Linked DNA regions of Homo sapiens. The protein of the gene in region 1 purifies or fractionates together with the protein of each later gene. This does not show direct contact. Each region holds a gene or a part of one and is shown in the gene's direction. Other genes may lie near its edges. The genes, in order: GPI, MT1X, RIDA, FDX1, ALDH6A1, HPRT1 and GLOD4.

Region 1 (4,529 bases):
CTTGAGTTGCATGCCTTGCTGCAAATCCAAGGAGCTGAGGACACTGCCTAAAACGTGCCAGCAAACACCATGGACACACATTGGGAGGATGAGGTTACTTCAGGCTTCATGAGCACTCATCTTCGGAAAGCGTTTATTTATTTATTTATTTTGAGATGGAGTCTTGCTCTGTCGCCCAGGCTGGAGTGCAGTGGTGCGATCTTGGCTCACTGCAACCTCTGTCTAATGGGTTCAGGCGATTCTCTGCCTCAGATTCCTGAGTAGCTGGAACTACAGGTGTGTGCCACCCCCACCTGGCTGATTTTTGTATTTTTAGTAGAGACAGGATGTCACCATGTTGGCCAGGCTGGTCTCGAATTCATGACCTCAAGTTATCCACCTGCCATGGCCTCCCAGAGTTCCGGGATTACAGGCGTGAGCCATGGCGCCCGGCCTCTGAAAGCATTTATTGCTTGTTTCTGACATGTATTGTTGCCATTCTCTGCCTTTGCTCACTGTTCCTCTTTTCTCTCACTGTTCATGCCCTGAGCATCTCTGGCAGGCCTTCGGGGCCTGTCCTAGGCATATATGGGTCCCCTCCTCTCCTCCTGACTGTCTGCAGCACATAAGTCCTTGGGGAGCTCCTACTCCTCTAAGCATACAGTGGGTTCTTGGAACAAGGTTATGGTGCTAACAGAGACCTCAGGGCCTGCCTGTCTAGTGGATAGAGGGCCGAGCTATGGCACCATGCCCAGCTGGGAGCATGGCTGCCTGGGGTTGGGGGGGGCAGTCTTTATATCCTGACCGTAATCCCCAGGGTCGAGCCGTGCTGCACGTGGCTCTGCGGAACCGGTCAAACACACCCATCCTGGTAGACGGCAAGGATGTGATGCCAGAGGTCAACAAGGTTCTGGACAAGATGAAGTCTTTCTGCCAGGTAAGTGGCTACTGGGCCGGACTCACCCTTGGCCGTGTGTGTGAGTTATTTGGGAATCTGGGAGCCCTAAGGGGCAGCTCTTCCCTCTTCTTGTAGGCAGGACTCAGGTTCTCACTGCAGCTTAAGGGAGGGGTTGCCTGTGTGATCGCTGACCCTGGAGTCTCTGCTGAGGCCTGAATTTCTCCTGGCTCTGCTCTGAAGGAATCTGCTGCTGGCAGAAGTGGGGCCAGTTTCTTTCCTGAATTGTAGACACCTATGGACTCATGGTGACAAACCACAGAGGCTTCAAATGAAAAGTGGGGCCCCTGAGAGACAGGACAGTCAGGAAAGGAAGGAGCTTTTTCTTTTTTCTTTTTTTTTTTTTGAGATGGAGTCTCACTCTCTCGCCCAGAGTGGACTGCAGTCGTGCTATCTCAGCTCACTGCAACTTCCGCCTCCTGGATTCAAGCTATTCTCCTACCTCAGCCTCCCGAGTAGCTGGAATTACAATTATGCGCCACCCTGCTCAGCTAATTTTTGTATTTTTAGTAGAGACGGGATTTCACCATGTTGGCCAGGCTGGTCTCAAACCCCTGACCTCAGGTGATCTGCCTGCCTCACCTGGGATTACAGGCATGAGCCACTGCGCCTGGCCGGAAGGAGCTTTTTCTAATCTCTTTTGTCATACGCCCTTATCACCCAGTCTAGAAACAGATAAAACATTGTAAAATTTCCTCAACCCTGGCTGGGCGCGATGGCTCATGCCTGTGATTCCTGAACTTTGAGAGGCCGGGGTGGGTGGATCACTTGAGGTAAGGAGTTCGAGACCAGCCTGGCCATCATGGTGAAACCCCATCTCCACTAAAAATACAAAAATTAGCCAGTTTTGGTGACATACGCCTGCAATCCCAGCTACTTGGGAGACTGAGGCAGGAGAATCGCTTGAACCCGTGCGGCAGAGGTTGCAGTGAGCTGCGATTGCGCCACTGCACTCCAGCCTGGGCGACAGAGGGAGACTCTGTCAAAAAAAAAAAAAAATTTCCTCATCCCCATTCCCAGCTAACCCTCCAGAAGCAGCCTTTGTAAAGTTTCCTGTAGCCAGGCGCAGCAGCTCATACCTCTATTCCCAACTATTCAGGAGGCTGAGGTGGGAGGATGGCTTGAGCCTGGGAAGTTGAGGCTGCAGTGAGCCATGGTGACACCACTGCACTGCAGCCTGGGCGACAGCAAGATCGTGTCTCTAAATAAATTTAAAAAATAGAAAAGTTTTCCTGTGAAGTCTTCCAGAAAGTTCCTGTGCACATACACATCTGTCATCTCCTCTTTGAAACACGTACACATGTGCACATGCACACAGGTTGGTTTTCTCCCTGCTCCTCTGAAGCTTATTTCCACCTGGAAGTATGTAAGCAGTGTCCGTGTGTCAGTGACAGTGCATGTAACATGCCTTCTTTTCCTTGTGTGTAGGGTGGTAGGGGTTGCCTCAGAGACCAGCTAAGTTTCCCCACATCAAGCACTTGCCTCAGTGTCTACCCTAGCGGTGATTCTGCAGGGGTGGGTTGGCAGACATCCTCACGTCTGGAGAACGAGGGTGATGCCGGTGTGCCTGTGTGGGCTGTGCATGCTACGAGGGTGATCGTCCAAACTCTTGTCAGCTGTGATCATTTGCTGCTTGTCCTAGGAGCAGTGGCCTCCATGTGTGGCTGGTCAGAGTCCAGTTACTTTGGCCAAGAGCCACTTTCAGACCTGAAAATGGGCTGGGTGCAGTGGCTCACGCCTGTAATCCCAGCACTCTGGGAGGCTGAGGCAGGTGGATCATGTGAGGTCGGGAGTTTGAGATCAGCCTGATCAACATGGTGAAACGCCGTCTGTACTAAAAATACAAAAAAATTACCTGGGCGGGCATGGTGGCGAGCACCTGTAATATCAGCTACTGGGGAGGCTGAGGCAGGAGAATCTCTTGAACCCGGGAGGCAGAGGTTGCAGTGAGCCAAGATCACGCTACTGCACTCCAGCCTGGGTGACAGAGTGAGGCTCTGTCTCAAAAAAAAAAAACCAACAAAAAAACCAACCCATCTCTGGAAAAAATAAATAAATCAGCTAGGTGTGGTGGTGTATCCCAGCTACTTGGGAGGCTGGGGTGGGAGGATTGCTTGAGCCCGGGAGGTTGAGTCTGTACTGAGCTGAGATTGTGCCACTGTCCTCCAGCTCAGGTGACAGAGTGAGACGCCTCCAGGGCAAGGAAGTTGTGGGGTCCTGATGGGAATCTGGATTTCCTGAATGTCACTTAGGGTGATCAGTCCATGTGATGGTCTTTGGGTGTGTGGCGGGGCCTTTCCAGCCATCTGCTGTGAGTGGCAGAGCTGAAGTGCATTAAAAGCCTAGTGCTGTGTGATCAGTCTGGGTGTGCTCAGCCATGCCACATGGCGAGGATGGCACTGCACCGTCTGGGGTGCTGTTTCCAGGAAAGCCTTCCCTTAAAGCTGGCCACTGGAGTACCTGACTCAGGCTGATAAGGTATTTATAGTTCAAAAAAAGTTGCTGAATGGCAGTAATCCCCTGGTGAGGAACATTCCCCATGGCTGTGCTCTCCAAAGTTTGCCAAGATTGGGTGAAGACGTTCACTGTGACCTTGATTGTAGTGGCAAAACCTGAAACCAAGCTGTACTCATTTGTCAGGGGACTTACAAAGTAGAGTCAGCACATATTCATATACTGTCATCCTGGGCACCAATAGGGATTAGGGAGCTATAGTTGGATTGATCTGCCATGCTGTTCAGGATGGACTGGGAAGTTGAAAAAGGAAGTTGCAGAATTGGTGGGTATGGTAAAGACTCATTTGGTCAAATGAAGGCTGGGTGTAATTGTAATAAAGATAGACACATTTGGCTTGGTGCAGTGGCTCACACCTGTAATCCCAGCACCTTGGGAGGCCGAGGTGGGTGGATCACGAGGTCAGGAGTTCAAGACAAGCCTGGCCAACATAATGAAACCCCATCTCTACTAAAAAAAAATACAAAAAAGTTAGCCTGGCATGGTGGTGCATGCCTGTAGTCCCAGCTACTCGGGAGGCTGAGGCAGGAGAATCACTTGAACCCCAGAGGTGGAGGTTGCAGTGAGCCAAGATCACGCCACTGCACTCCAGCTTGGGCAACAGAGTGAGACTTTGTCTCAAAAAGAAAAAAAAAAAGACACATTTTTCCTCTGGGATGCTTCATTATAACAAACCTTTGACAGTCGGGAAAGGAGACTTGCTTTTTTTTTTTTGAGACAGAGTCTTACTCTGTTGCCCAGGCTGGAGTGCAATGGCGAGTTCTCGGCTCACTGCAACCTCCGCCTCCCAGGTTCAAGCAATTCTCCTGCCTCAGCCTCCTGAGTAGCTGGGATTACAGGCATCCGCCACCACACCCAGCTAATTTTTGTATTTTTAGTAGAGATGAGGTTTCACCATGTTGGTCAGGCTGGTCTCGAACTCCTGACCTCAGGTGATCCACCCACCTTGGCCTCCCAGAGTCCTGGGATTACAGGCATGAGCCACCACACCCAGCCAAGACTTGCTTTTTCTAACCTCTTTTGTCACACGCCTGTGAGGGAGGGTTGAGAAGTTGAACAACTTATTTTATTTCTTTCTGTA
Region 2 (3,598 bases), on another chromosome or scaffold:
ATTGACCTGTGGTCCTGACAGTGTCCTGCACTCTGCCCACAAAATAGGGATTCACTCCAGAAATATAAAGCCATGAGCAAGATAGTCCCTGTCCCCATCACAGAAACGGAAGGATACCTGCCAGTTCTGCTACCACCTGCACCAATATGTGACTTAACGTTTTTCTTTCAAATGATTCCTATTTCCTTAGATATTTTTATATGAAAAGCAAACTCATTAGCACCACTGAAAAAAGAATCAGTTTAACTTCCAGACATAGAAGGTTGCCATCAAATTATGCTTATTCATATCCCCTCTGCATCTCTGTTTTGCTTCCAGGACTGACCTTGATGCTTGGTTTTGTTTAAAGATTTCAAGCAGTAAAGAGATGAATATATCTAGGCCAAAGGGAAGCTTCATCATTGCTTTGGGACGCTGACCGGATTCAGACCCAGCAGTGTCACTTCGCAGCCCTCTGACCCTGGGCTGGTGGCTTGAACTCCTTTTATTGTTGTTGTTCAGATTAGAATATGGGTTCATGAATAGAAGTATGTCCCTTTAGGGTTGCTGTGAGGGTTCAACGATGCAAAGTGACTAAAAAGGGCCTAACACGGATTAATGTTATGTAGAGTAATAGGAATATGGAAGGAAAAATAACCCTGTTTCTTGCATTTTAATTTAATCCGGAATCCGCATATCACCTAAAATGATCCCTTTTCTGGGAGCATTCCACATTTTCCAAACTGTCATCCTGTGGTGGGGTGCCCGGCTAGGCTATGGGGAGACCTGGAGAGTTTTATGCAAAGGAGGACCTGGGCAAATGTGCCCATTCAGCCTCTCAAGAGTGGAGAATGCAAGGACGGGGGCAGAGCCCTGTGTCTGTTCTGTCCCTAGACATAAGAGAAACGTGGCCAACAGACCGAGGTGGGGACGGGGACAGGGACCGGCAATGCAGGAAATCCGAGTGTCACATCCTCTGCCTCTCATTTGCACACTGCTCCCTCGCTATGCTCACCGCTCCCGCCGATCCAGGGACGTGATCCAGGGACTCTGGGAAATGCAAAGCTACACACAGTGGAGCGGGGGCTGGGGGTGTGTAGACCGCCGGGATTCCGAGTTTCCCGGCACGCCTAGGAGAGGGAGAGGCAGGCAATGTCAGGGAAATTGGGCAGGCAAGACGCCAGGGACGCCACGTACTGCCAGGTTCTCAACGAGGTGGAGCCAAAGGGGCAGGCCCCGCGGTGCGCCCGGCGCTGGGCTCACGGGTTGCTGCACCCGGCCCAGGATCGCGGGCGGTGCAGACTCAGCAGGGGCGGGTGCAAGGACGAGGCGGGGCCTCTGCGCCCGGCCCTCTTCCCGGACTATAAAGAGAGCCGCCGGCTTCTGGGCTCCACCACGCTTTTCATCTGTCCCGCTGCGTGTTTTCCTCTTGATCGGGAACTCCTGCTTCTCCTTGCCTCGAAATGGACCCCAACTGCTCCTGCTCGCCTGGTAAGGGACACCTAGCTCCGCGCCTTGGGATGCCCGTTTCCCAGCCACAGTACAGACTCTTCCTGGGTTTGAAGAAGTCGCATTTAAAGTTCTGAGCTGAAGGGGCTCCTTTATTTCGTTAGGTGCTTTCTTCCCGATCACGTCCCTGAGACCACTTCTCGCCTCCCTGTGCCTCTAAGTTAGAGTTGAGGGTACTGAGGCCCAAGGCTGTCCTGCTCCATGTCACCCAGTTGGTCAGGGGGCTGCTGGCTGAGCCCCAATGCTCTGACCAGGCTCTGAGCAGTCAGGGTGGATGGGAAGTGGGGGGCCATTGCCTCTTCGGAGTTCAGGACAGAAGGTTCTGGCCTCCTGTCTTAGCCTTCCTGGGCTGTGTCTGGAGCCTGGGACCTTGCTTGTGGGGTAAAAGCAACAGAACACTTGCCCTTCCCAAAATGAAGGGAGAGGAGATGGGGCTTCTCTTCCTCTCCCCTGAGTGGGAAAGGAGCTCTGGGGGCTGGTCCTTCAGCACAGAGGAGGGGTCACTGAAGCGTTATTGACCAGCTGCTGTACCTTCTGCATCTCACTCCACGCTCACTGCCTTTTTCTCTTCCTTGCAGTTGGCTCCTGTGCCTGTGCCGGCTCCTGCAAATGCAAAGAGTGCAAATGCACCTCCTGCAAGAAGAGTGAGTGCAGGGCCTTCCCTGCGAATCTGGGGGATGGGCCAAGTTAGAGCAGGGAACCCAGAGCTCTGCAGGCAGGGGCAGGCCAATGACCAGCTTCCCCAAACCCCTCCTTCAACACCTGATTCAGAATCAGACCTCAAATTGCCTTAAAAATGGGTGAGTCCCAGCCTCTTATTACCAAACTAGAAACTGAGGCCCAGAGAGGTTACCAGATAGTGTTGGGAACAAAGCTGGAATGTGAACCTAGGTCTCCTGCCTCCTGATGCAGCCTTCTTCACCCTTCTGGGTCCTGAAGCACTTAAGGCCCAGGATCTGGAAGACCCCGGGTGATTTCAAACCTAATGATCCAGTCCTTTCCTGCAGGGGTAGCCCAGAGCTTCCCTAGCCTTCCCCAGAACTGCTGTGTCAGGGATTTGCCCCCTGTCCGGCTGTGAAGACTTTCCTCATTTAAGGGTAGGTTTTGGGGAACTGGCCTCCTTTTGTTCCTGTACCCCCAATCACTACCTGTCCAGTCTTCTGTCCTGTCCCAGACTCAGGTGGGGCTGGGCAGCTTTTTCATATAAAACCCTCATCCCAAAGATCTACCAGTTCTCTTCTGACAAAGCCATGCCATCCTGAAATGATGGTCCTCTGGGGCTGGAGGCAGGGCTCGAGCCAGGCCTCTGTTGGGGCAGGGAGGTGCCTGATTGAGTCTGCTCTGACCTCTCACTCTCCCCTTCTTCTCCAGGCTGCTGCTCCTGCTGCCCTGTGGGCTGTGCCAAGTGTGCCCAGGGCTGCATCTGCAAAGGGACGTCAGACAAGTGCAGCTGCTGTGCCTGATGCCAGGACAGCTGTGCTCTCAGATGTAAATAGAGCAACCTATATAAACCTGGATTTTTTTTTTTTTTTTTTTTGTACAACCCTGACCCGTTTGCTACATCTTTTTTTCTATGAAATATGTGAATGGCAATAAATTCATCTAGACTATTCTGGCTCTGGGCACCTCATTTGTCACTGGGTATATGGCACTTGGTTCCAGTTGGATTGTAGGAAACCCAGATTGTGGGGCATTTCAGAGAGGGGACCATGGCAGTGGGGGTCTGGGTGCAAGGTTCCTGCAATCCTGCCTGGCCTTGGCTCTCCTTTGTGAACTATGGCAAACTAGGGGGTTTATTCTACCACCCTCTAGCAACGGTTAACTGGTAGTAGCTGCCCTTTTTGTGTAGCTGTGACACAGCCTATACTCACCAGCCACCTATGGTGCACCTACTGCATACACAGGCATGGGGTCCTCAGTGGTGAGGGGAACAGGGAGCTTATGGACTGCTGGGGGGAGAGAGAATTATAGAATAAGGAATCTTATAAAGGAGAAAGTACTGTGACTGAATGCACTTGGGGTGAGCCCAAATGAAGAACTCTTTCCACTGGGATCTGAGAGCTGCATTCCTGCAGAGGGCACAGCTCCAGCAAAGGTCTGGAAGTGGGGA
Region 3 (5,260 bases), on another chromosome or scaffold:
TTGATGTGGCAGGCACTATTCTACATGACTTATTCATTTAATTCTCACAACTCTGTGGTCACTAGTATTATTCTCATCTTATAAATGAAGAAATCGAAGCACAGAGATTTTATATACCAGTCCAAGGCTACTAAGCTTGTGATTGTGCTGAGATTCAAACCAGGCAGTCTGACTCTATCCACTATTCTTTTTTTTTTTTCCACCCCTTCCCTCTCCAATCCACTATTCTTGAAACACATAACAATTAGAAAATAGGATCTCATATAATAAAATACTAAATTATGCGGTACAGCACAATAGGAAACAGGACAAGGGAAAGAAAAAAAATGAGGCCGGGCATAATGGTTACACCTGTAATCCCTGCACTTTGGGAGGCTGAGGTGGGAGAATTGCTTGAGCCCAAGAGTTGGAGACCAGCCTGGCCAATATGAAGAAGCCCCGTCTCCACAGAAAATACAAAAATTAGCCGGGCGTGCTGGTGTGCACTTGTAATCCCAACTACTTGAGATGCTCAGGCTGGAGGATTGCTTCAGCCCAGGAGGTCAAGGTTTCAGTGAGCCAAGATCATGCCACTGTACTCCAGCCAGGGTGACAGAGTGAGATCCTGTCTTGAAAGAAAGAAAACAAAGAAAAAGAAAAGGAAAGGAAGGAAAGAAGAAAAAGAAAAAAATGTGAATTGGTAGGAAAAGTCAAAGAGAAAATAGAATTTCAGTTAGCTGGAATTTGCACAGATAAGGAAGAAAGAGTATTCAGGAATCCACAGTGTGAATACAGGAGGACTCTAGTGGGAAAAGGGAGTAGATGACAATGAAACTTGAATAGGCAAGGGGAGGCCAGACTGAAAGGTCTTTTATTCCAGGCCCCAAACCAATGAAAAAGATCAGAAGGTTCCTGAGCCGGAAGTAGGAAGGCCAAAACCTTAGCAGTATGTAGGACAAAATGAGAGGGAATAAAGCAGATTTTCTTGTATTATCTTTAGGAAGCAGGGAAGGCAGAGATTTTATTATTATTTTTTTTAACTGTTGCATTCCTCCTAGCATCTAGCAGAGTGCCTTACACAAAGTAGGGACTCATATATCTATGAGTGCCCGCATAAATGAAGAAACGAAGCGTACTTACAATGCAAATATTAACAGGATAAGAAATATTTAGCCAAGTACCACCCCTTCTGACACAGCAGAATACTTACAAGGGATCTGGGCCATTCCAGATCACCATCTTTCTTTCTGAAATGATATCCCAATCACTAGGGCTCTGTTCAGACAGTGACCTTGTAAAGCCCGAGGAGCACCCTAGAGAAGGGAACACAGGAGGAGCAGGAAAGGGAACACGGGAGGACCAACGCCCAGATCTCAGCGTGGTCGCCAGAATGACCCATATTAGTCATTTGGGGTTGCAGAAGAGGGGATGCAAGCCCATTCCCAGGACGGCCTCCACCCGGCGGGGCAATGAAGGGAAATGACTGACGTAGGGGGCTCCAGCGCAGGGGCCGAAGGAGATGCGACACCAGGGAGAGGGGCCCCGGGCACAGGCAGCAAGGAAAGAGGTCAGCGGAGTCTGAGAGAGAAACGATGAAGAGGGGAGACGGGCGCCGGGAGGGGGGCCGCCGCATACAGTTCCCCCGACACTCGCATCCTGGAAGGCACCAGCCCCTCACGACCAACCTGCCAGACGCTGTGAGGAATCCCCGGGTCAGAATGACAAGCCTCCGCGACAGTACCCACCGAGCCAAAGCTCCTGGAGAGCGCGCTGGAGAGCGCATGCGCCAGACCGGGCGCTTCCTCCACGTGGCCTGGAGCGTCGCCGAAACTACAGTTCCCAGAATGCCGCACGAGCCCGCCCCCAGCGGGAGCTGTGGGGCAGAGGCGCTGCTGTGGTTGGTCAGTCCAGTAAGAAGCCAGCAGGGCTGGTGCTGGGGCTTCTTCTCCTGAAGGGGCTGCAAGAGGGAAGGCTTAGCCATGTCGTCCTTGATCAGAAGGGTGATCAGCACCGCGAAAGCCCCAGGGGCCATTGGACCCTACAGGTAACGTGGCTGGTGGAAGCTGTGTCGGACCCAGGGCGTGCGGGTTCGGGGATTCGGGGTTGGGGCCACTCCGGGCCGGAGCCCCAGCTAACACGCAAGGAAATTGAGCCTGGAAAGTAAGCAACGCGCCCGAAGACCCACAGAGAGTTGGGAGCCACGATGGGACCAGGAACCTGCACTCCATGGGACTTTGCTCGTTCTGGGGCTGCCTCGCTGCGGAGCACAGCCTGCCAGAAAGCTCTCCCCAGTTAGAAGCCTTCAGACCCTGTGTTTTGTTTTGGGGGAGGGGGTCGTTTTTGTTTTCTTGGTAACAGCTTTATTGAGATATAATTCACGTACCGTAAGATTCACCCCCTTTAACATGTACAATTCAGTGGTTTTGACCATACTCACAGAGTTGTGCAGCCATCACCACTTTCTTCAGAACATTTTCATCACCCCAAAAATAAATCCCATCCCCATTAGCATTCACTCCCCATTCTCCTCTCCCCCGGCCCCTGACAATCTACTTGCATCTTCATGGATTTGCTTGTTGTGGACATTTCCTATAAATTGAATCATAAAACATGCAGTCCTTTATGACCAACTTCTTTCATTAGCTTCATACTTGGTCTGCCTCTCTCCCAACTGAAAAGAGCCCCATCAACAGCTCCCTCCTTTAAACCTACTGCTGTGAGAAAAGGCACTGAGATGTGGCAGAACAGGAATTATTATAGAAAACTTGGAAATAAATAAAATGCAGTAGAAGTGAGAGGGCAAGTGGGGTAGGGAGTAAAGGAGAAAAAAGACAAATTGATTTTAACTTGGGGTGGAAGAGGAAAAAGAAGATTTAGGAAGGTTCCTTGTGAGAGGTAGTCCTTTGGTTTTGAAGGTTGGTTTTGTCATTTATAGTAGTGTTGTAAAGTTTGATTTTTAAATTAATTTATTAAGGATTTCAACAGGAAGTCATTGAGTGAAGGGCATGGAGGTAGAAGTCAGGTAGAGGGAATGGCTTGAGTGAGGGCATGGAGGTAGAAGAATGCATGGTATAAAGATTTTGGGGAGAAAGTTTTCATAATTCAAGTGCTACTTCTGTCTTTTTTGTTTGTTTGTTTGCCAAATCTGTATATCACTTATAATTTACTTAACCTATTTCTTTGAGATGGCTCACTTCATTTTATTTAACAAGTTAATTGAAAAAGGAAACTTTACAACAGTACACTAAATAGAAAACAATTCAATAGAAAGTAATAGTAAAAAATAAACTCAATTAAAAAAAGGTATTATTAAATTTTAGCTAGATATTGCAGTTGGCTCAAAACCTGAGGCCTGCTCTCTCTTTGTTAAGAGTGATGTTTCTTTAGCCGGGTACTGTGGTTCACGCCTGTAATCCCAGCACTGTGGGAGGCCGAGGTAAGAGGATTGCTTGAGGTCAGGAGTTCAAGACCAGCCTGGGCAACATAGTGAGACCCCCATCTCTATTTAAAAAAAAAAAAAAGTTTAATTAAAAACTTTCAAGTGATGTTTTAATTTGTTTTCTAAAGATGATTTTTTTTCTCCTTAATGTAATCAAACGGGGTAGAGTCATCATTGCTAACATTTACTGATGCTTACTCAGCAGCATTGGGCACTATCCCTTTTTTTTTTTTTTTTTTTTTTTTTTTGGAGGCAGAGTCTCACTCTGTTGCCCAGGCTAGAGTGCAGTGGTGCAATCTCAGCTCACTGCAACCTCCACCCCACAGATTCAAGTGATTCTCATGTCTCAGCCTCCCAAGTAGCTGGGATTACAGGCAGGTGCCACCACACCCGGCTAATTTTTGTATTTTTAGTAGAGACAGGGTTTCACTGTGTTGGTCAGGCTGGTATTGAACTCCTGACCTAAAGCGATCCACCTACCTCGGCTTCCCAAAGTACTCGGATTACAGGTGTCAGCCACCATGCCTGGCCAGCACCAGGCACTGTTCTAAGTTATTTATGTGCATGGTTATATTATAGTCCCTATTTTTCAGATGAAGAAACTGATGTGTGCAAAATTAAATAATTTGCCAAAAGTTACACCACTAAAAAGTGATGTAACAAAATTTGAATTTAGGAAATGGGTACTAGAGCCTAGTCTTAATCATTTACTTTGTTGTCCCTGGTGTAGATTGAAAAAAAAAATTGGAAAAGGAATCATTTTCTTACTATGTAAGACTGTGTATAAGTCTTACTGTGTATGACTGACTCCTTTGAGAAATACTGATTAAGAGTTGGACTTTGGATTTGAATTTTTGTTTTGCCTCTTTTTAATTATATGATCTTGCAGAGTGACTTAACCTCTCTTAGTTTGCTTCTTTGTCTTCTCAATGGGCATAAATAATACCATTTGATAAGATTATTGTGGGAATTAAATAAAAGTGACCAACAAAAATTAGATTTTGGCCAGGCACAGTGGTTCACACCTGTAATCCCAGCACTTTGGGAGGCCGAGGCAGGTGGATCACAAGCTCAGGAGTTCAAGACCAGCCTGGCCAAGATGGTGAAACCCCGTCTCTACTAAAAATACCAAAAAAAAAAAAAAATTAGCTGGGTATAGTGGCGTATGCCTGTAATCTCAGCTACTCGGGAGGCTGAGGCAGTGAATTGCTTGAACCTGGAAGGCAGAGGTCGCGGTGAGCCAAGATCGCACCACTGCACTCCAGCCTGGGCTACAGAGCGAGACTCTGTCTCAAAAAAAAAAAAAAAAGATTTTAGCAGGGTACAGGTTGTGGTGGTTTCCAATACTAAATGGAAGAATATAAACTTTATTTTGTATATAATAAGGAACAATTAAATGTGGTTTTTTTCTTGTGGTTGTTGTGGTTGTGTGTTTGTATGTGTGTATATTGAGACAGTGTTTCGCTGTGTCACCCAGGCTGGAGCCGGGATCACAGCTTATTGTCGCCTCAACCTCCCGGGCTCAAGCCATCCTCCCACCTCAGCTTCCCAAGTAGCTGGGGCTACAGGCTCAGGCCACCATGCCCAGATAATTTTTGTATTTTTTATAGAGCTGGGGTTTTACCATGTTGCCCAGGCTAAATGTTTTTAAGCAGGGTGGAACATGATCAGATCTTTTAAAAAGAATTCTGATAGTAATTCTGATAGAAATTTGGAGGTAAAGAAAGTGAGAATAGTTAGGGGATATTATAAGTAAAAATTTGTGATTTTTTTTCTCCTTCTGCCCTAATGTCTTTCTCTCAATCACACAGTGGTAGCATTTAGAAAAACATCTTTACCTCC
Region 4 (2,219 bases), on another chromosome or scaffold:
ATTCTTTTCTAAGCAGAATGGTTTAACTTTGTACTCTTTGAAAAATAATGCTGATTTATAAATCTCTGCCTATAACAGAATGGAAACCTTATGAATGAATTGTGTTTCTCTGTCCTGAGCTGGAGAAGGGAATGAGCAGGCTGACACGTTGCACAGCCCCAGGTGGCGCCATTCTCTCACGCAAGGATGGGGCTGCAGGGTGAGCAGCGTGGGCTGCAGTGTGTCAGTCCCAGGAGTGAGGGAGTGGCAAGCACCACAGATTACCACGTATGTGTGGAAGACATTCGTACTCTTATCTTTACTATAAATAAATTCATAAAAGTTAACAAAGGGGTACACAGTATGGTCTTTGGAAATATAATAAAACATCAACTAACTTGGACTAATTGTGAGGAAGAGCAGAACAAATTAGTAGAAAGAGGTTATAAGACAATTGAGTTAGCTTCATGTGTATTATTGCAGCTTGATCATTTATATAAATATTTGTCTAGTACAATGCTTGACATACAGCATTGTGTTATGCCCATTGGGGACACAGAGGTGAACAAGACAAGGAATGCCATCAGGGAATTCACCTTTTATTAGGAAAATATAAAATATGTATGTATGTGCAGATAATTTGCTTGAACTAAACTGACTAGTTCTGCTAAATAAGATTTTAAACTAATTCATATGTAAAAAGTGATTAGGAAGAACTTGAAGTATCATTTGATGCTTAATAACTATTGAGTAGTTTTTTTTTTTTTTTTTTGGTGGGGGGAGCGGGGGACAGGGTCTTACTCTGTCACTCAGGCCAGAGTACAATAGTATGATCTCGGCTCACTGCAACTTCTGCCTCCCAGTTTCAAGGGATTCTCGTGCCTCAGCCTCCCAGGTAGCTGGTACTACAGGCACGGACCACCACGCCTGGCTAATTTTTGTATTTTTTCTAGGGACAGGGTTTTACCACGTTGCCCAGGCTGGTCTTGAACTTTTGAGCTCGAGTGATCCACCCACCTCAGCCTCCCAAAATGCTGGGATTACAGATGTGAGCCACCGTGCTTGGCCATAACTATTGAATGCTTTCTATGTGGAGAGTGCTTGTCTTAATTTTCTGTTGCTATAATAGAATAACACAGACTGGGTAATTTATAAAGAAAAGAGATTTATTTGGATCATGGTTCTGGAGGCTGGGAGGTCCAAGAGCATGGTACCAGCATCTGCTTGGCATCTGGTGACAGCTTTCTTGCTGCATCATTACATGGTGGAAGGGCAAGAGAATGCGAGTGAGAGCAAGAGGGCAAAATGATTATCCTTTTATCAGGAGCCCACTTCTGACATAACTAACCCACACCTGAGATAACGGCATTAATCCATTCATGAGGTCTCTGCTCTTAAAGGAGATCACCTCTTAAAGGACCCACCTTTCAATGCCATTACACTGGCAATTTAATTTCAAGATGAGTTTTGGAGGGGACATTCAAACCATAGCAGTGCTATAATTTTAAAGTACTTCAAAGCCAATTTATTCTCTTAATTAGCTTCATTATTCTTGTCTTTGTGTGTGGATTACCTAAACTCTCCTTCCAGAGCTACTTTAATGATTATATTCAACCAAAGCACTCTAAAATTTAGAGTATAAATTGTCTTATATTTCAAATTAGAAAAGTTCAAATGAAGTTTAATTGTGTTATTTTATAAAACCTTCTAAAATTATTAAATGGAGGATATAATCTATAATTGGTTTGTATAAAGGTGATTTTTCAGTTTGAAAAAATCCTTCTGTATTTGATATATGTGTGTTGTAGGTAAATGTGTTGGTTTATCTATTGCTGCAAAACAAATTACCCCAAAACTTAGTAGCTTAAAACAAGAATCTTGTATTATTTCAGACAGTTCCTGTGAGTCAAGAATTTAGAGTACGGAGCAGGGATAGCTTGTCTCTGCTCCACAATGTATTAGGTCTTAAGCTAGATGACTCAAAGGCCAGGTTCTGGAATCATCTTCAGGCATATTCTTCATATGACTGGTGTCTGCTGTTGGCATCAGCTGGGGGGTCTAGGAGAAGATACTGGCTGGAACACCCACACGTGGCTTCTCTGTGTGGCCTGGACTTCCTCACAACCTGGCGCCTGGGTTCCAAGGGCAGGCATCCTCAGAAGAGCATGCATGCCAGGCAGAACTGGATCCTCTTTATGAGCTAGTTGTGGAAGTGACACAGTATCACTCCCAACTATTCT
Region 5 (4,000 bases), on another chromosome or scaffold:
CCACCCCTCCCTCAGTGCTGGGTAGTGTGACCCCAGTGTGTTCCCATTGCACGTATTTTTTCTGTAATAGTTATTCATTTACAAAAAATGTTGTTGAGCACGTTCTTTGTAGCAGACATTATTATTACTATTATTATTATTATTTTTTTTTTTTTTGAGACACAGTCTCGCTCTGTTGCCCAGGCTGGAGTGCTGTGGCATGGTCTTAGCTCACTGCAACCTCCGCCTCCTGGGTTCAAGCACTTCTCCTGCCTCAGCCTCCCGAATAGCTGGGACTACAGGTGCCTGCCACCATGCCTGGATAATTTTTTGTTTTTTAGTAGAGACAGGGTTTCACCATGTTGGCCAGGCTGGTCTTGAACTCCTGACCTTGTGATCCACCCACCTCAGCCTCCCAAAGCACTGGGATTACAGGTGTGAGCCACTCTGCCCGGTCTGTAGCAGACATTATTTTAGGCACTATGAATACAGCACTGAACAAGAAAAGTAAAGCAGATCTGGAACCAAATTGCCTGTGTTCAAATCCCAGCTAAGCCAGTTATTAGCTGTCTGACTTTGGGGGATACCATTAATTTTTTTTTTTTTTTTGAGACAGAGTCTCACTCTGTCGCACAGGCTGGGGTGCGGTGGCACAATCTTGGCTCACTGCAACCTCCGCCTCCCAGGTTCAAGCAATTCTCCTGCCTCAGCCTCCCAAGTAGCTGGGATTACAGATGCCCACCACCACACTTGGCTAATTTTTGTATTTTTAGTGGAGATAGGGTTTCACCATTTTGGCCAGGCTGGTCTCGAATTCCTGACCTCAGGTGATCCGCCTGCCTCAGCCTCCTAAAGTGCTGGGATTACAGGCATGAGCCACCACAGCCAACCAGGATACCTTCTTTATGCCTTAAATTTATTCACGTATAAAATGAATAACAATAGTACCTATGTATTTCATAACATTGTAAGGACTGAATTATCACTATTGGCCAGGTGCAGTGGCTTACGCCTGTAATCCCAGCACTTTGGGAGGCTGAGGCAGGCAGATCACCTGAAGTCAGGAGTTTGAGACCAATCTGGCCAACATGGCAAAACCCCCTCTACTAAAAATAAAACAATTAGCCAGGTGTGGTGGCAGGTGCCTATAATCCCAGCTACTCGGGAGGCTGAGGCAGAAGAATCCTTTGAATCTGGGAGGCGGAAGTTGCAGTGAGCCGAGATTGCACCACTGGACTCCAGCCTGGGCAACAGAGCAAGACTCCATCTCAAAAAAAAAAAAAAGAAGAATTATTACTATTGCCACATCGGCCAACAGGTGCATATGTCCCGAGGCAGGAAGAAGCATGGCACATTCAGACAGCGGAAATGGGCTGGGGCACAGTGAGCAAATGAGAAGAAAAGGAAGAAATGAAGTTAGAGAGGCAGGCAGGGGTTGAGTCATGTAGGGCTCTTTAAGCCATTTAAAGAAGCCCTCATCAGACTGTAGTTGTTATCTACTTATCTGCAGTACCTGGAACAGAGCAGGCTGCCCAAACATTTGTTGAACAAATAGGCTAGGGGAAGTTCTTTCTAGTCATAGGACTAGAGCCATTTTGAAACCTTCATTAATAAATTACATGTTTTGTTATACAAGTCTCCCCTTTTATAGGTTGATTTTTTTTTTCTGTGCCAGCTATGTGCTGCCACAGGGCGAGGGATGTGGGGCTTTTTTATTTTATTTATGTTTGGGTTATTAAAAAATTAACAATGGGATTGCATAGCATTATGACAGTGTGGCCAAATGGTTAAGAAGTCAACACTTTGGTATTTGGAGGTTGATTATATAGTTTGTATATTAGTCACAGCTTTTGGTTTTTTGTTTTGGGGTTTTTTTGATGGAATCTTTCTCTGTCACCCAGGCTGGAGTATAGTGGCATGATCTTGGCTCACTGCAACCTCAGCCTCCAGGGTTCAAGCAATTCTCGTATCTATGCCTCCCGAGTAGCTGGGATTACAGGCACGTGCCACCACACCCGCCAATTTTTGTATTTGTAGTAGAGACGGGGTTTCGCCATGTTGGCCAGGCTGGTCTCGACCTCCTTACCTCAGGTGATCTGCCTGCCTCGGCCTCCCAAAGTGCTGGGATTACAGGAGTGAGTCACCGCACCCGGCCTAGTCACAGCTTTTGTAAAAATGACTAATTTGATACTAGTAACATTTCTTTTAAGCAAAACAGAGTACAACTATTGTTTAAAAATTGTTCCCTGCCCACCCTCTCCATTTATTTATTTTTTTGAGATGGGAGTTTTGCTCTGTTGCCCAGGCTGGAGTGCAATGGTGCATTCTCGGCTCACTTGCAACCTCCACCTCCCAGGTTCAAGCAATTCTGCCTCAGGCTCCACCACGCCCAGCTTTTTTTTTTTTTTTTTTTTTTTTTTTTTCCCAGTAGAGACGAGGTTTCGCCATGTTGGGCCAGGCTGGTCTTGAGCTCATGGCCTCAAGTGATCCGCCTACCTCAGCCTCCCAAAGTGCTGATATTACAAGTGTGAGCCACCGCTCCTGGCTGCACCCCCCAGTTTAATTATTATAAATTACTCTGGTAATCTGGTAAAATGTCATTCTAGCTTGCTAGTAATTATATAAGTGTTAGATCTGCACAATGTATTCTCTTTTGCTCAAGCCTACTCTTATAAACTATATCTATATATAGAGAGAGTTAAATATGCTGAATTTTTGGGCTCACATGTTATAGGTAATTGAGAAGTGAATTTGTATAATGTCAGACATTTTACTTTAGATTTCTAAGATACTTTGGGTTTGCCACTTCAATATAGAGCTCATGATCTCTGATAATTATCAGAAATGGCCGCTGGGTACAGTGGCTCATGCCTGTGATCCCAGAACTTTGGGAGACCAAGACTGGCGGATCACCTGAGGTCAGGGGTTCAAGACCAGCTTGGCCAACATGGTGCTAGCCAACATGGGCTAATCTGAAATTAGCCCTTCTCTACTAAAAATACAAAAATAGCTGGGCATGGTGGCACACACTTGTAATCCCAGCTATTCAGAAGGCTGAGGCAGGAGAATCACATGAACCTGGGAGGCAGAGGTTGCAGTGAGCCAAGATCACACCACTGCACTCCAGCCTGGGCAACAGAGCAAGACTCTGTCTCAAAATAAATAAATAAATAAATAAATGGCCTACTATATAATAGCTGGGGGCACGGTGGCTCACACTTGTAATTCCAGCACTTTGAGAGGCCGAGGAAGGCGGATCACTTGAGGCCGGGAGTTCGAGACCAGCCTGGCCAACATGGTGAAACCCCATCTCCACTAAAAATACAAAAATTAGCCAGGCGTGGTAGCAGGTGCCTGTAATCCCAGCTACTCGAGAGGCTGAGGCAGGAGAGCTGCTTGAACCCGGGAGGCAGAGGTTGCAGTGAGCTGAGATCATGCCACTGCACTCCAGCCTAAGTGACAGAGCAAGACTCCATCTCAAACAAAAAAGAAAGAAATACTAGTTTCAGCATAATAATGATGGCTAAGGTTTGATTGTTTACTATCTGCCAGGTATTATGTTAAATGTTTTAGATCAATTATCTTAGGAACAATATATATTGGATTCTGATTGCATTTCTCAATTAGGAAAGTGAGTAGCACTTTATAATACCTCCTTCAAAAGCTAATTAAAAGAAGAATCATGAAACCCCAGAAATATATGCTAACTTTTTTTCTGTTTTCCTTAGGGCATCCAATTCTACACTCAGTTAAAGACCATTACTTCTCAGTGGAAAGAAGAAGATGCTACTCTTTCCTCACCTGCTGTTGTCATGCCTACCATGGGCCGTTAGAAACAAGTTTGTTTAAGACTGACTCCATCCTGAGTAATCTCCCTTTATTTTTGACCAGCTTCATTTGTCAGCTTTGCTCAGATCAGATCGATGGGATTGGAATACATTGTAACTAAAATCTTCCTCAGGACTATTAACCCCCGCAAAGTTTCTATAGGGAACTGCCTAGTGTAACAATGAAACCAGAT
Region 6 (4,529 bases), on another chromosome or scaffold:
AGTCGATCTGCAGAACCTGTAGCCAGGCACTGAACCATTTTGATAGATGCAGTAATCGTTGCAAGTGTATATTTCAAGGAGTTCTGGCTGGGTCCTAGTTTATGCTTGTGGCAGAAGCAGTGAGTAACTGGGAGGAAGTTGGTGAGTAAGCTTCAAGGAAGAAGTCATTTTTAGTACTCTGGATCTTCCTGATTTTAAAGCACTACAAAATGGTGCATTTTCATTCTTGTCAAGTGATAACAGATATATTCTGATGAGCCTGAAATGAATATATATTGTATCATTTTTATAATATCTAGCAAGGTTTGTATTTTCCTAGAACTTGAACTAAATTTCAGTTCATAAAATTTATAAAATACTTAGTTGTTGTAAAATATTTTTGGAATGTTCACATAGGTGACACACAAATGTCCCATTTTCATTCTTTCTATAGTAAATATGTTCTGATATGTGAAGGTTTAGCAGATGCATCAGCATTTAATCCTAGAGGATCTGGCATAATCTTTTCCCCCAAGAATAGAAATTTTTTCTGCTTATGAAAGTAGTACATGTTTCTTTAAAAACAAATCAATATTGACTTCTGCCTGCTGTATAGCACTATGCCTCCACCTGGCCATGACCAGGGGCATGTCCTGGTCCACCTACCTGAAAATGTTTGCAACCAGCCTCCTGGCCATGTGCACAGGGGCTGAAGTTGTCCCACAGGTATTACGGGCCAACCTGACAATACATGAAGTTCCACCAAAGTCTGAGAACTCAGAACTGAGCTTTGGGGACTGAAAGACAGCACAAACCTCAAATTTCTCAGCACTGGAAACCTCAAAATATAACTGAATTCCATAAATAAGATTTTAAGTCTTAAATATGTATTTTTAAATGTATTAAAAGTCAAGCTGCTTGTATTTAAGCACCTAATACAATGCTTAGGTTGTAAAAGGAGATGCTCAATAGGTACTAACTGATATATTGAGATTTAATTATGGTTTGACCAATATTTATTGGAAACCGCCAAAGCTTAAATCATCAGCTTCTTGAATGTGATTTGAAAGGTAATTTAGTATTGAATAGCATGTGAGCTAGAGTATTTCATTCTTTCTGGTTTATTTCTTCAAATAGACTTTGAATATAATGGTGAATGGGTATTATAAATTAACTAATAAAAATGACATTGAAAATGAAAAAATATATATATTAAAGTGTAGAAAGTGACCAGGCGTGGTGGCTCACACCTGTAATCCAAGCACCTTGGGAGGCTGAGGCAGGAGGATCTCTTGATCCCAGGAGTTCAAGACCAGCCTGGGCAACATAGCGAGACTTCGTCTCTAAAAAAAAAAAAGAGAGAGAAAAAAATTTTTTTTATTTAAAAAAAGTGTAGAAAGTGTCAAGACCCCACTTCTTACCATTATTTGGTATATTTCTCTATACCCACCCACCCTTCCTCCTTACTCCCTCCCTCCCTTCCCAATCTTTTTATCTTTTTGTATTCTGATTTTTTGTTTGTATATTTTGCTTTAATTTAATGTATCCTTTAAAAATTTCCCATACATTTTATATGTATATATAAAAACGCATGCTGCCAAAGATAATTTATAAGAAAGACCATTGAATTTTTTTAAAAGTGATATATATTCATTGAAAAAAATTTAGAATATATAGCAAAGCAATAAAGAACTAAATAAAATTGCTGTAACTCCTCTTTCAAAGATAAGTGCTTTTATGATTTTGTTGTATTTTTTTCTGTATATAGGTACATATATAGTATTTATAAAGCTGTACTCATAGTACATTTTCACATCACAGGTACCATATCAGTGTTATTAAATATTTTGTATGCCAGGGGCTAGACATACCAAGACAACCAATATGTGGTTCTACTTAAATAATATTAGAGTATCTTTTATGATGACACTTCATGAGTTGACTATAATAATCTTAGACTTCTAAGAGTTTGGGTTTTCAAAAGATCACTTAGCTTTTTTGGGTGATTTTTCCCCCTTACTGTGAGATGAGAGAGGCTGTTTGGATTTGGGATTGGGGTAGCGGGGACAGCAACTTTTCTTTTCTTTTTCTTTTTTATTTTGAGGTAGGGTATTGCTGTGTCACCCAGGCTGGAGTGCAGTGGTGTGATCTCGGCTCACTGCAACCTCCACCTCCCGGGCTCAGGTGATCCTCCTGCTTCAGCCTCCCCAGTAACTGGGACTACAGGCGCGTGCCACATGCCTGGCTAATTTTGTATTTTTAGTAGAGATGGGGTTTCACCATGTTGGCCAGGCTGGTCTCTAACTCCTGACCTCAGGTGATACGCCCACCTGGGCCTCCCAAAATACTGGGATTACAGGCATGAGCCGCTGCATCAGCCAGCAGTTTTTCTTGTGGTTTTTTTTGTTTGTTTTGTTTTGTTTTGTTTTTGAGATAGGGTCTTACTCTGTTGTCCACGCTGGAGTGCTGTGGTATGATCGTAGCTCACTGCAGCCTCAAACTCCTGGGCTCAAGTGATTCCTTCTGCCTCCGCCTCCCGAGTAGCTGGGACTACAGGTATGCACCACCATACCTGGCAAATTTTTACAAAGTTTTTTGTAGGGACGGGGTCTTGCTACATTCCCCATGTCGGTCTTGAACTCCTGGCCTCAAGCAACTCTCCTGTCTCAGCCTCCCAAAGCACTGGGATTACAAGTGTGAGCCACCACACCATGCCAGTTTTTCCTGTTCAGTGTGATATTTTATCTTGTTAGACTACAGTGTGTTAAAACTTGTTTTACTAAATTTTCAAACATACTCAAAAGTGGAGAGAATAGTATAATGAATACCCGTATGTTCATCACCCATGTTTAGAATATTATTAAATATAAAGATTTTGCTGCGTTTGTCTTAGCTCTTTAAAATTTTTCTTTTTCTCTTTGTGACCTAAAGGAAATTCCATATCTTATCACTTTACTTCTACATTCTTGACTAAGATGACTAAGACATATAGTTACATGGTTTTTTGTTTTGTTTTTTGTTTTTTAAAGACGAAATCTCGCTCTTGTCCCCCAGGCTGGAGTGCAATGGTGCCATCTCAGCTCAGTGCAACCTCTGCCTTCTGGGTACAAGCGATTCTCCTGCCTCAGCCTCCCAAGTAGCTGGGATTACAGGCTCCTGCCACCACGCCTGGCTAATTTTTGTATTTTTAGTAGAGACGGCGGGGGGAGGTTTCACCATGTTGACAAGGCTGGTCTGGAACTCCTGACCTCAGGTGATCCACCCGCCTCGGCCTCCCAAAGTGCTGGGATTACAGGCGTGAGCCACCGCGCCCAGCCTGTTTTTTTGTTTGTTTGTTTTGTTTTTTTTGAGACAGAGTCTTGCTCTGTTTCCCAGGCTGGAGTGAAGTGGCGCATTCTTGGCTCACTGCAACCTTCACCTCCCAGGTTCAAGTGATTCTCCTGCCTCAGCCTCCCAAGTAGCTGGGACTACAGGCATGTGTCACCACACCCGGCTAATTTTTTTGTATTTTTAGTAGAGACGGGATTTCACCGTGTTGCCCAGGCTGGTCTCGAACTCCTGAGCTCAGGCAGTCTGCCTGCCTCAGCCTCCCAAAGTGCTGGGATTACACGTGTGAACCAACCCGCCCGGCCTGTTGTTTTCTTACATAATTCATTATCATACCTACAAAGTTAACAGTTACTAATATCATCTTACACCTAAATTTCTCTGATAGACTAAGGTTATTTTTTAACATCTTAATCCAATCAAATGTTTGTATCCTGTAATGCTCTCATTGAAACAGCTATATTTCTTTTTCAGATTAGTGATGATGAACCAGGTTATGACCTTGATTTATTTTGCATACCTAATCATTATGCTGAGGATTTGGAAAGGGTGTTTATTCCTCATGGACTAATTATGGACAGGTAAGTAAGATCTTAAAATGAGGTTTTTTACTTTTTCTTGTGTTAATTTCAAACATCAGCAGCTGTTCTGAGTACTTGCTATTTGAACATAAACTAGGCCAACTTATTAAATAACTGATGCTTTCTAAAATCTTCTTTATTAAAAATAAAAGAGGAGGGCCTTACTAATTACTTAGTATCAGTTGTGGTATAGTGGGACTCTGTAGGGACCAGAACAAAGTAAACATTGAAGGGAGATGGAAGAAGGAACTCTAGCCAGAGTCTTGCATTTCTCAGTCCTAAACAGGGTAATGGACTGGGGCTGAATCACATGAAGGCAAGGTCAGATTTTTATTATTATGCACATCTAGCTTGAAAATTTTCTGTTAAGTCAATTACAGTGAAAAACCTTACCTGGTATTGAATGCTTGCATTGTATGTCTGGCTATTCTGTGTTTTTATTTTAAAATTATAATATCAAAATATTTGTGTTATAAAATATTCTAACTATGGAGGCCATAAACAAGAAGACTAAAGTTCTCTCCTTTCAGCCTTCTGTACACATTTCTTCTCAAGCACTGGCTATGCATGTATACTATATGCAAAAGTACATATATACATTTATATTTTAACGTATGAGTATAGTTTTAAATGTTATTGGAC
Region 7 (4,529 bases), on another chromosome or scaffold:
CTCTTGCCATGGAGATGCCTCCATCCGTTCCCCTCAGCTCTCCCCATGGAGATGCCTCCATCCCATCCCCTCAGCTCTCCCCGTGGAGATGCCTCCATCTGACCCCCTCAGCTCTCCCCATGGAGATGCCTCCATCCGTTCCCCTCAGCTCTCCCCAGGGAGATGCCTCCATCTGATCCCCTCAGCTCTGCAGCTCCTTTGATCATCTCTTCTCCATTCTGCAGCATCAGTCTCTTCTTTCCAGTGAGTTATTCTCGCCAGCGTGCAAACAGGCGCTGAAAGCTCCCATCCTTTAAAAACCTTTTACTGACCCCATATCTCCTCTCCAGATTTCTCCTTCTAAAAATCTGAGTGCGCACTGTTTCTCTCTCTCACATCCTCTCCAGATTTCTTCTTCTAAAAATCTGAGTGCGCGCTGTTTCTCTCTCTCACATCCTCTCCAGATTTCTTCTAAAAATCTGAGTGCGCGCTGTTTCTCTCTCTCACGTCCTCTCCAGATTTCTTCTTCTAAAAATCTGAGTGCGCGCTGTTTCTCTCTCTCACATCCTCTCCAGATTTCTTCTAAAAATCTGAGTGCGCGCTGTTTCTCTCTCTCACGTCCTCTCCAGATTTCTTCCTCTAAAAATCTGAGTGCGCGCTGTTTCTCCCTCTCACGTCCTCTCCAGATTTCTTCTTCTAAAAATCTGAGTGCGCGCTGTTTCTCTCTCTCACGTCCTCTCCAGACTTCTTCTTCTAAAAATCTGAGTGCGCGCTGTTTCTCTCTCTCACGTCCTCTCCAGATTTCTTCTAAAAATCTGAGTGCGCGCTGTTTCTCTCTCTCACGTCCTCTCCAGATTTCTTCTAAAAATCTGAGTGCGCGCTGTTTCTCCCTCTTATGTCCTCTCCAGATTTCTTCTAAAAATCTGAGCGCGCGCTGTTTCTCTCTCTTACGTCCTCTCCAGATTTCTTCTTCTAAAAATCTGAGTGCGCGCTGTTTCTCTCTCTCACGTCCTCTTCAGATTTCTTCTTCTAAAAATCTGAGTGCGCCCTGTTTCTCTCTCTCACATCCTCTCCAGATTTCTTCTAAAAATCTGAGTGCGCGCTGTTTCTCTCTCACACATCCTCTCCAGATTTCTTCTTCTAAAAATCTGAGTGTGCGCCGTTTCTCTCTCTCACGTCCTCTCCAGATTTCTTCTAAAAATCTGAGTGCACGCTGTTTCTCTCTCACACATCCTCTCCAGATTTCTTCTTCTAAAAATCTGAGTGCGCGCTGTTTCTCTCTCTCACGTCCTCTCCAGATTTCTTCTTCTAAAAATCTGAGTGCGCGCTGTTTCTCTCTCTCACGTCCTCTCCAGATTTCTTCTAAAAATCTGAGTGCGCGCTGTTTCTCTCTCTTACGTCCTCTCCAGATTTTTTCTAAAAATCTGAGTGCGCGCTGTTTCTCTCTCTTACGTCCTCTCCAGATTTCTTCTTCTAAAAATCTGAGTGCGCGCTGTTTCTCTCTCACATACTCTCCAGATTTCTTCTAAAAATCTGAGTGCGCGCTGTTTCTCTCTCTCACATCCTCTCCAGATTTCTTCTAAAAATCTGAGTGCGCGCTGTTTCCCTCTCTTACGTCCTCTCCAGATTTCTTCTTCTAAAAATCTGAATGCGCGCTGTTTCTCTCTCTCACGTCCTCTCCAGATTTCTTCTTCTAAAAATCTGAGTGCGTGCTGTTTCTCTCTCTCACGTCCTCTCTAGATTTCTTCTTCTAAAAATCTGAGTGTGCGCTGTTTCTCTCTCTTACGTCCTCTCCAGATTTCTTCTCTAAAAATCTGAGTGCGCGCTGTTTCTCCCTCTTACGTCCTCTCCAGATTTCTTCTTCTAAAAATCTGAGTGTGCACTGTTTCTCTTTCTCGCCTCCCATTTTCACTTCAGTCTGTTTTGCACTGGCTCTTGTTACTCAGTGAAGTGCTTTTGTTTCTTGCCAAATATAGCAACTACTTTTAGATTCTCATCAAACTCAGTAATTCAGAAGCATTCAAAGTAGTTGTTGGATCCTAGCTCCTAGCACATACCTGGCATGTACTAGACGTTCTGCAAATACTTTGTTGAATGATTAAAGGAACAAATTGGTCTTTCTTGGTTCTGTCACGTAACTCTGTGACTGACCTTAAACAGTTGACTTAAATTCTTTGAACTTTAGTCTTCTTATCCAAAAATTTCAGAAAATAAGAGGATCTATCTCATAAGATTGTTATGGTTTATAGAGCTTGGCAAATTACTGACATAATAGTAGATGCACAATTAACGTTAAAGCAGGCAATGTATAGAAAATACAGTCTTTATACATTTTATCCTGAAGGAAAGTAGAATCTGTCATCCTCTCAGCTGACAAATTTGCCAGACTCTTCCTCCTCGCTCTTAATTTAATTAAATTAATTACTGAATTAAATTTTTTGAGATGGAGTCTAGCTCTGTCGCCCAGGGTGGAGTGCAATGGTGCAATCTTGCCTCACTGCAACCTTCGCCTCCCAGGGTCAAGCGATTCTTCTGCCTCGGCCTCCCAAGGAGCTGGAACTACAGGCACTTGCCACCATGCTGGCTAATTTTTGTATTTTTAGTAGAGACAGGGTTTTGCCAGGTTGGCCAGGCTGGTCTCAAACTCCTAGCCTCAAGTGATCTACCCACCTCATCCTCCTAAAGTGCTGGGATTACAGGTGTGAGCCACTGTGCCTGGCCCATTTTATTTTATTTATTTTTTGAGACGGATTCTTGCTCTGTCAACTAGGCTGGAGTGCAGTGGCATAATCTTGGCTCACTGCAACCTCCACCTCCCGGGATCAAGCGATTCTCCTGCCTCAGCCTCCCAAGTAGCTGGGATTACAGGCACGTGCCACCACGCCTGGCTAATTTTTGTATTTTTAGTAGAGACGGGGCTTCACCATGTTGGCCAGGATGGTCTTGAACTCCTAACTTCAGGCGATCCGTCTGCCTTGGCCTCCCAAAGTGCTGGGATTACAGGCGTGAGCCACCACGCCTGGGCCCATTTTTTTTTTTTTAAGACGGGGTCTCTCTCTGTCACCGAGGCTGGAGTGCAGTGGCATGATCTCAGCTCACTGCAACCTCCGCCTCCTATGTTCCAGTGATCCTCCCACCTCAGCCTCCCTAGTAGCTGGAACCATAGGCGTGCGCCACCATGCCTGGCTAATTTTTGTATTTTTTCTAGAGATGGGGTTTCACCATGTTGCCCAGGCTGGTTTCAAACTTCCTGGGCTCAATCATTCGATCCATCTTGGCCTCCCAAAGTGCTGGGATTATAGATGTGAACCATTGATGAACTCCTGCTCCCTGAGCTCTCTTCTCCTCTGCTGTTAGCGATCCTGCCATTTTTCTTTTTTTTGAGTTGGGAGTCTCACTCTCTTGCCCAGGCTGGAGTGCAGTGGCGCGATCTCAGGTCACTGCAACCTCTGCCTCCCAGGTTCAAGCAGTTCTCTTGCCTCAGCCTCCTGAGTAGCTGGTAGCTGGGATTACAGGCACGCACCACCACACCTGGCTAATTTTTGTATTTTTAGTAGAGATGGGGTTTCACCATGTTGGTCAGGCTGGTTGAGTAGGCCGGGTGCGGTGGCTCACACCTGTAACCCCAGCCCTTTGGGAGGCCGAGGCGGGCGGATCACAAGGTCAGGAGATCGAGACCATCCTGGCTAACACGGTGAAACCCTGTCTCTTGAACTCCTGACCTCAGGTGATCCACCCTCCTCGGCCTCCCAAAGGGCTGGGATTATAGGCGTGAGCCACTGCGCCTGGCCATCCTACCATTTTCATCTTCCTGACAGTTTCTCCTCAGACACGGGCACCTCTTTCTGTGTCTCATCCCAAAGTGTTTTTATACCCATAGCCCTACTTTGCTGTTTTTCCCATTCTGCATTCTTCCTCCACTCTGATGAGAGCTTACCTGCGACCTCTCCTTACCTCTGCCCTGAACGTAACCATCATCCTGGCTCCAGCCTCCTCACTTCCAGTTTTTAACTCCTTCCTCAGCTCAGACAGGTGGTTGTTGTTGATGAGGCATAATTTAGGTAGAATTTAAATGTGTTTTGACGGTTGTGTTTACTCATACAACCACTACTCAGAATACAGACCATTTTCCCAGGAAGTTCCCTCATGCCCATCTCCAGTGAGTTGGCACCTTCATCTCCCAGATCAGCTGCTATTCTGACTTCTGTCACTGTAGGTGAGTTCGTTCTTGGACTTCATACAAATGGAGTCATTCAGTATTTTCTTTCCTTTTGTGCCTGGCTGCTTTTACTCACCATGGCTTTTTTTGTTTTTTGTTTTTTGTTTTTTTTTGAGACGGAGTCTCGCTCTGTCACCCAGGCTGGAGTGCAGTGGTACAATCTCTGCTCACTGCAAGCTCCGCCTCCCGGGTTCACGCCATTCTCCTGCCTCAGCCTACCGAGTAGCTGGGACTACAGGCACCTGCCACCTCGCCCGGCTAATTTTTTGTATTTTTAGTAGAGACGGGTTTCACCGTGTTAGCCAGGATGGTCTCGATCTCCTGACCTTGT

Evidence for each region.
Region 2: the proteins of GPI (region 1) and MT1X fractionate together in Homo sapiens (co-fractionation; one large-scale study listed by BioGRID). This does not show direct contact.
Region 3: the proteins of GPI (region 1) and RIDA fractionate together in Homo sapiens (co-fractionation; one large-scale study listed by BioGRID). This does not show direct contact.
Region 4: the proteins of GPI (region 1) and FDX1 fractionate together in Homo sapiens (co-fractionation; one large-scale study listed by BioGRID). This does not show direct contact.
Region 5: the proteins of GPI (region 1) and ALDH6A1 fractionate together in Homo sapiens (co-fractionation; one large-scale study listed by BioGRID). This does not show direct contact.
Region 6: the proteins of GPI (region 1) and HPRT1 purify together in Homo sapiens (affinity purification with mass spectrometry, with the first as the bait; one large-scale study listed by BioGRID). This does not show direct contact.
Region 7: the proteins of GPI (region 1) and GLOD4 fractionate together in Homo sapiens (co-fractionation; one large-scale study listed by BioGRID). This does not show direct contact.

What each region holds. Positions count from the first base shown.
Region 1 is NC_000019.10:34,367,787-34,372,315, forward strand, and holds part of GPI (glucose-6-phosphate isomerase), read left to right. Parts: intron 1-796; coding exon 797-916; intron 917-4,529. UniProt on the Homo sapiens protein: In the cytoplasm, catalyzes the conversion of glucose-6-phosphate to fructose-6-phosphate, the second step in glycolysis, and the reverse reaction during gluconeogenesis.
Region 2 is NC_000016.10:56,681,099-56,684,696, forward strand, and holds MT1X (metallothionein-1X), read left to right. Parts: upstream 1-1,371; 5' UTR 1,372-1,442; coding exon 1,443-1,470; intron 1,471-2,066; coding exon 2,067-2,132; intron 2,133-2,859; coding exon 2,860-2,951; 3' UTR 2,952-3,098; downstream 3,099-3,598. UniProt on the Homo sapiens protein: Metallothioneins have a high content of cysteine residues that bind various heavy metals; these proteins are transcriptionally regulated by both heavy metals and glucocorticoids. May be involved in FAM168A anti-apoptotic signaling.
Region 3 is NC_000008.11:98,113,795-98,119,054, reverse strand, and holds the start of RIDA (2-iminobutanoate/2-iminopropanoate deaminase), read left to right. Parts: upstream 1-1,883; 5' UTR 1,884-1,958; coding exon 1,959-2,023; intron 2,024-5,260. UniProt on the Homo sapiens protein: Catalyzes the hydrolytic deamination of enamine/imine intermediates that form during the course of normal metabolism. May facilitate the release of ammonia from these potentially toxic reactive metabolites, reducing their impact on cellular components.
Region 4 is NC_000011.10:110,463,166-110,465,384, forward strand, and holds the end of FDX1 (adrenodoxin, mitochondrial precursor), read left to right. Parts: 3' UTR 1-1,719; downstream 1,720-2,219.
Region 5 is NC_000014.9:74,060,454-74,064,453, reverse strand, and holds part of ALDH6A1 (methylmalonate-semialdehyde/malonate-semialdehyde dehydrogenase [acylating], mitochondrial isoform 1 precursor), read left to right. Parts: intron 1-3,707; coding exon 3,708-3,812; 3' UTR 3,813-4,000. UniProt on the Homo sapiens protein: Malonate and methylmalonate semialdehyde dehydrogenase involved in the catabolism of valine, thymine, and compounds catabolized by way of beta-alanine, including uracil and cytidine.
Region 6 is NC_000023.11:134,469,579-134,474,107, forward strand, and holds part of HPRT1 (hypoxanthine-guanine phosphoribosyltransferase), read left to right. Parts: intron 1-3,780; coding exon 3,781-3,887; intron 3,888-4,529. UniProt on the Homo sapiens protein: Converts guanine to guanosine monophosphate, and hypoxanthine to inosine monophosphate. Transfers the 5-phosphoribosyl group from 5-phosphoribosylpyrophosphate onto the purine.
Region 7 is NC_000017.11:764,789-769,317, reverse strand, and holds part of GLOD4 (glyoxalase domain-containing protein 4), read left to right. Parts: intron 1-4,529.